Homo sapiens: one gene and its partner. The protein of the gene in region 2 purifies or fractionates together with the protein of the main gene of each other region. This does not show direct contact. Each region holds a gene or a part of one and is shown on either strand. Other genes may lie near its edges.

Evidence for each region. Proteins that work in one complex are often made in the same cells at the same time.
Region 1: the proteins of CUL2 (region 2) and COPS9 purify together in Homo sapiens (affinity purification with mass spectrometry; 2 studies listed by BioGRID and IntAct, with this or other methods). This does not show direct contact.

What each region holds. Positions count from the first base shown.
Region 1 is NC_000002.12:240,130,328-240,133,305, reverse strand, and holds the end of COPS9 (COP9 signalosome complex subunit 9), read left to right. Parts: intron 1-2,217; coding exon 2,218-2,255; 3' UTR 2,256-2,478; downstream 2,479-2,978.
Region 2 is NC_000010.11:35,010,342-35,013,841, reverse strand, and holds part of CUL2 (cullin-2), read left to right. Parts: intron 1-41; coding exon 42-143; intron 144-1,877; coding exon 1,878-1,994; intron 1,995-3,399; coding exon 3,400-3,500.

The DNA.
Region 1 (2,978 bases), on a different chromosome or scaffold from region 2:
ATTTCTTCAGGCCTTATTCCTATAGATGATATTAACCTTTACTAAGGGTTCAAATAATAAGTAAATAAGATAGGTTTCTTACTCCAGAGAGTGAGGTGGCATTTTTCATCCTGGTTTAATCCATGGTGCTTTTCTCTACAGAAAGCTCTTGTTACTAGTTAACAGCTAGGACCTGAGCTTGCCACATCGGTTTCTAATTTACCAGAGACCCCCTGCCATCCTGAGTCCCTGCTGCTTCATCAGGCTTACTGTCAGGCAGCCATTGCCTGAGGGGAGCAGCCAAGCTGCTGAGTTGGGGTGCAGGCTTTCCCAGGGTGCCTGGCCATGCCCCTGAGGCAGCATTCTTACTGCTACCAACTGGAGTCAGAACTGAGGCAGATGACATTTGAGATGAGCCTGGAGAACTGAATAGCATTTATTTCAATTCTTTATGCCAGAGCGAGGTGGGAGAAGGGTGTTGCCTTCAGAGGGAACAAATTGTACAAAGCTGCAGAGCGCTCTCCAAAGCTGCTTTGCAAAAACACCAGCTCACCAGGGCGACTTTGAAGCTTTTCACGTGGGCAGGATTGGGCAGTTGCTAATGCTGGCACCACACGCTTGCATTTTGATGATCTCCTTCAAAGTCCCATTTATCCTCTGCCAGCCCATTGGTTAGAGGCGATTGCTGTGTTCTAGTGTTTGAGTTCACATGACTTCCAGAGTCAGCCCTTGAATCCTGACGGGAAAGCATCTCTGAGAGGGACCCAGGTCCTACCCGTCAGGTGAGCGCCCAGCAACCTGAGCATTGTGGGCGCGTGTCTGCCTTTGAGCCACGGCCGGTCAGGGAGGGGACGCAGGAGAGCTCTGTGTCCCCTGCCTGCCCACCCACTAAGTTCACAAAGCACTCACTGTCCCATCAGGTTGTGACAACCCCATGTGTTCAAGAAGCCATTTACTTTGAGAGACCTCTGTGGGCTGTGGATGAGGCTTTTGCTAAGTCCTTTTTACTCGTCAAACAGATGGGTTTGCTGGGCTGTTACACCCTGGGCACCAGGGTTCTAGCCACGAAAGAGACACTCTCTCTTCCCTCGCCATGTCTTACAAAATTGTGGGTCCAGACAAGTCAGCAGGCAGGGGCTGGACTGTGACAAGAGCCCTGGCAAAGCGTGGACGGCATTGTTTCTGGGAGCACTGCAGAGGGAGGTTTCTCCAGAGGGGGCAGCAGAGCAGAGGTCGGAAGGTGTGGAGTCAGCCAGGCCCAGGACTGCGCAAAAGTGCTCCTAGCGGCGAACCACAACCAGCAGTCGGGAGGCAGTGAGGACGTGGGGGTGCATCAGTGTGGCTGGGGAGCGTCGGGACCCTCTGCAGTATCCAGAGATGCCTCAGGGACGCCACCCTCCCCAGGAAGGCTGGATGCTGTGGTGCCAGCAGGCCCCTTTCTCTTCGCTCTGACCCTCCAGGAGTTGAACCTCCTCTTTCTAGTTCATAATTCATACTGCACATTTTCAGTGCGCAGTACATGTGGGTGGGCTTTTAGTTGTATTTTCACCTCCCATTGTGAAAGTGATGATTGCCTGTAGTAGGGAATTTGAAAAACACAGAAGACTAAACAGAAGGACAAAATCTTTCCTGGGGGGCCTGATTTTGATCACCCAAAGCAGGGCACTACGTGTTTGCTGCGTTTCTTCCAGTGAGAATGGGCCTTAGCAGGTGTTTCTCAGGCTTGAGTATCATTCACGCTCCCTTACTGGAGGCTTCACCTTTCTGCAGCCTAGCCCGGCTTTCTCATGCTCACAGCGGCAGCCGGCTGGTTTCCCTCTGCTCTCAAGGACCCAGCACGTGCCTCCCAGCTTCATCTCTCCCCGGCCCCGGCAGCGAGGGCAGCATCTTGGGTGCCCGTGCACTCGTGGGTGCAGACACGGCACTGGCGTGTCCTGAGTGCTGAGTTGTGGCTGTGCGGTGGTGTCCGTGGGACTCAGAACAGCCCTGCATGCATTTTCTTAGGATTGTCTTTTAAATGAAAGCTAGAAAGCACTCTAGCCAACACTCTCCCCTTGGACTACATGTACGAGCCCTGGTTGGCTGAAACTGAAAGTCTGTTACGGGAAAAGTCTTTTATTTCATTGGATCATTGACGATTATCTCTGTATTTTGGACTACTATATAATTCATTCTGAAGTGATTTCTTCAGCCCTTACCCTTGTAGGTGTAACTACGTGGTTTTGCTTATTTCCCTAGATTTTGAAGATCTTTTTGATGATGATGACATCCAGTGAGATGCCCTCTGGCTGCAGGCGGGGCCAAGCCCTTGGTACAGAGCCGCAGTGTGAGCCTGCGCAGGACAGTTTCAGGTGGTTTTAAAGAACACGTGGAAATCCCTTGAATTTAGGACCTGGTTAACCAGAAAGATAAGACTGTTCTTAACGACCTAGATGATTCTGTTCATCTCTGAACGGGATCAGGTTTTGTCCTCACTCCAATTAAAAGAAAGCAATGTCACATGTGGAGTGATCTCTTTCTTGCACTTATGAGTGAATGTTGCAGTCCCTAAACGTCTCTGTGTGTTTGTGTGTGCATGCATGTGCGTGCATCTGTCAGCACGCTGAGAGAACCACATTTGTCTGGTAGCAGATACCTTGTGTTAAGGTGCTGTATGTGCTGGAGCAGGAGGCAGCGCGGCCCGTGCACAGCTGGGCCTGCTGACAGCACTTGGAGGACCTTGCCACGGGGCCGCCCCTCTGCTGTGTGGGCAGGTTCCCACTGTGTGTGTCTGTCAGCACAGTCGTCCTTATGCTGTCCTCTGGCCTCCACGTCAGGGCAGCTGCCCCTAGGCTTAAGAACTAGGACGACAGGATGCGACTGCAGGAGACGCCTTCTACGTGGAAATGCACATTGGTCCATTTCAAAGGAGAGTGTAACGCCCATGTGGGAAGAGGGGTCTTGTTTCCTGTAGGCCCAGCTCAGTAGTCGATACTGGCTGTAAAGCAGTGAAGTTGCTG
Region 2 (3,500 bases):
TTTGGTTTTTATAAATATAAATGTTTTATTTTTAAATGTAGGAAGATATTGATGCAGAATCTTCGTTTTCATTAAATATGAACTTTAGCAGTAAAAGAACAAAATTTAAAATTACTACATCAATGCAGAAAGACACACCACAAGTAAGTGCTTTTAATGTCAAGTTTTTTTTGAGGGGGAAACATTTAAGCATTGGACTTTACAAGTGTTTACATTGAGATTGTGCAAAACTTTGCACAGCAAAATTAATAATGGGATATGTCTTTTCTGGTTTGTTGTTGGCATTTATTAACCTTACAGTCAAACAGAAATCTCTACTTGTATTTTAGTTTTTTCTAAGGAAAAGGGTATGGTTTTGTTGTATTTGCTCTTAAACCATTAGAATGTGTAACTATGCATTCTCTCCGAAAATTCCCACATTGAGAAGTAATAAAATTTCATATTTTTCATTTGTAAAATAAGGGAAAGTTCTCCAGTTCATTTTTTTTTTTTTTTTTGAGACGGAGTCTTGCTCTCTCGCCCAGGCTGGAGTGCAGTGGTGTGATCTCGGCTCACTGCAAGCTCTGCCTCCCGGGTTCACGCCATTCTCCTGCCTCAGCCTCCTGAGTAGCTGGGACTACAGGCGCCCACCACTATGCCTGGCTAATTTTGTTTTTTGTACTTTTAGTATAGACGGGGTTTCACTGTGTTAGCCAGGGTGGTCTCGATCTCCTGACATCGTGATCCGCCCGCCTCAGCCTGCCAAAGTGCTGGGATTACAGGTGTGAACCACCGCGCCTGGCCTACAGCTCATTTCTTTCAAAGAAAATTTGTCAGTAGAAAATGCTTCTTAAACTTTCATATGCAAATGAGCCACCTGGGCATCTTGTTCAAATGCAGATTGTGATCTAGTGGGTGTGGAGTGAGGTACTGACAGGCCAGTGTGAGGAGGGGACTTCTGCTCTTCATTATTTTAACTCAGCAGTGATTGTTGCTTTGGTCTGGGATAGACTGTTTCTATCACTTATGCTTCCTGATTGCCTCCGGTGTGCAGTCCTTGGGCTGATGCAGGATGTGAAGATAATATAAGATGTTAGACCCTCTCCAGAAACTTAATTCCCGATGGGGGGAGACAAATATTAACTGCCATTTACTTTGAAACCTAAAATGGTCAAGATTCCATTTTCCTCCAGGCTAATAAATAATAATTTGCAATATATAGATTGTATTTTGTCTTTGAAACGCTGTGAGGAGATCCTCTTAATGTGGCATGGTCTGCTTCTATGCCTTGCTTCTGTGTTTCTTGAGCTCCGTGGAGATAGGCCCCCTCTCCTGGCTTCTCTGCTTGAGCCACATAAAATGCCACTTCACAGCTCTTCCCTTTGAAGCCTGATCCAGTATGCATTTGGAGCTAATTACTGCAGTTGACACAACTCCATCTAAAAGCGTCATGAAAGATTCTGTAATCACTGATAAGAAAATGATCTTGCAAATTATTGCTGTGTCCTCCTTTATTGCCTCTTTACCTTAACAGTACAGTTTACAATAATGTAAATTTTTTTCTAATCTTTCAACTTTAACCCTAGAAATTGTAGATGTTTTAGCAGTGGTTATGTGATATTGGCACAACATAACTATATAATTTGCTCAATATTGTGGTGCATACCTGTAATCCCAGCTGCTCAGGAGTCTGAGGCATGAGAATCACATGAACCCAGGAGATGGAGGTTGCGGTGAGCTGAGAGCGAGTCACTGAACTCCAGCCAGGACGACAGAGTGAAACCCTGTCTCAAAAAAAAAAAAAAAAAAGTATTTGCACTCACTGATAAAATGAATTGAAAACAAGTTCAGTGACTTAATGTCTTGTTGGGTCTTTTTTCTTTTCTTCTGTAAAACAGGAAATGGAGCAGACTAGAAGTGCAGTTGATGAGGACCGGAAAATGTATCTCCAAGCTGCTATAGTTCGTATCATGAAAGCACGAAAAGTGCTTCGGCACAATGCCCTTATTCAAGAGGTAAAAGGAGGGCAGTCCTCAGGGCTTCTTAGGGTAGAGGGCATTGTCATTGTACAGATTCAGTCTCTTTCTTCTTAAAGAGGATACAGAAATAACCTGATCCTCAGATAGCATAAAGAAATGTTTCATACTTAATCAGAATCGTACTCACTCACAATTTCAGTATTAAATTCAGATTTGCAGGCTGGGCACAGTGGCTCATGCCTGTAATCCTTTTTGTTGTTGTTGTTGAGACAGAGTCTTGCTCTGTCGCCCAGGCTGGAGTACAGTGGCGTGATCTTGGCTCACTGCAACCTCTGCCTCCCAGGTTCAAGTGAGTCTCCTGCCTCAGCCTCCCGAGTAGTTGGGAATACAGGCGTGCACCACCATACTTGGCTAATTTTTGTATTTTTCGTAGAGACAGGGTTTCACCATGTTGGCCAGGCTGGTCTCGAACTCCTGACCTCAGGTGATCCACCTGCCTCGGCCTCCAAAAGTGCTGGGGTTACAGGTGTGAGCCACCATGCCCAGTGGACACCTGTAATCTGAATGTCTTGTTAGGCCAAGACAGGAGGATCACTTGAGTCCAGGAGTTTCAGACCAGCCTGGGCAACACAGGGAGACCCCATCTCACCTAAAAAAAAAAAAAAAAAAAAATTAAAAAATTAAAAAATTAGCCAGTTGTGGCGGCACACTTGTAGTACCAACTACTTGGGAGGCTGAGGCGGGAGGATTGCTTGAGCCCAGGGATTGAGCCTGTGTGACACAGTGAGATGCTATCTCAAATGATAATAATAAATTCATATTTGCTTTGGCTTTATTTTAGAGGTCTAAAACTTGCTGATTCATTGAGTCTTCTGTCCAGTTATTGAAGGAAATTGACCCATCAGATATTCATTCATTCCATAACTATCTGAGCCTACCATGTGATAGACAGCTGGGCTGGTCCCTGGGATATAGCACAGAGCAGCTGAAGATATGGCAGGCTTTTTTGGAGTTCACAGTTTAATGGGGGAAGAAATACACTATTGAAATGATATGCAAATAAATGTAAAATTACATTAGCATGCACTGAAGGAAACGTATACAGTACTATGAGAATGTATTTAAATATCCTGGCCTAGGGGCTGCTGGGGAAAACTTTCTTGAGAAAGTGTTTGAACTAAGAGCTGAGAGTTGAGTTAAATAGAAGCTTGGGGTTGTGTGTGAGTACTTAGGTTAATTAGTTTATTGTTTCACTTAATTATGTATCATTATTAGATTTTGCTGTATCCATTTTCCACATTGTAGTTCCTATTTTCATACTTAATTTGGCCCATTTGTTGAAACCTCAGTACATTTGAGGCACTTTAAACTGATTGGTTAAAAGTCATTACTTAATAGCTGAAGAACTGGCAGTAGTTTGACTTCCACATCTCTTCCACAGGTGATTAGCCAGTCAAGAGCTAGGTTTAATCCCAGTATCAGCATGATTAAGAAGTGTATTGAAGTTCTGATAGACAAACAATACATAGAACGCAGCCAGGC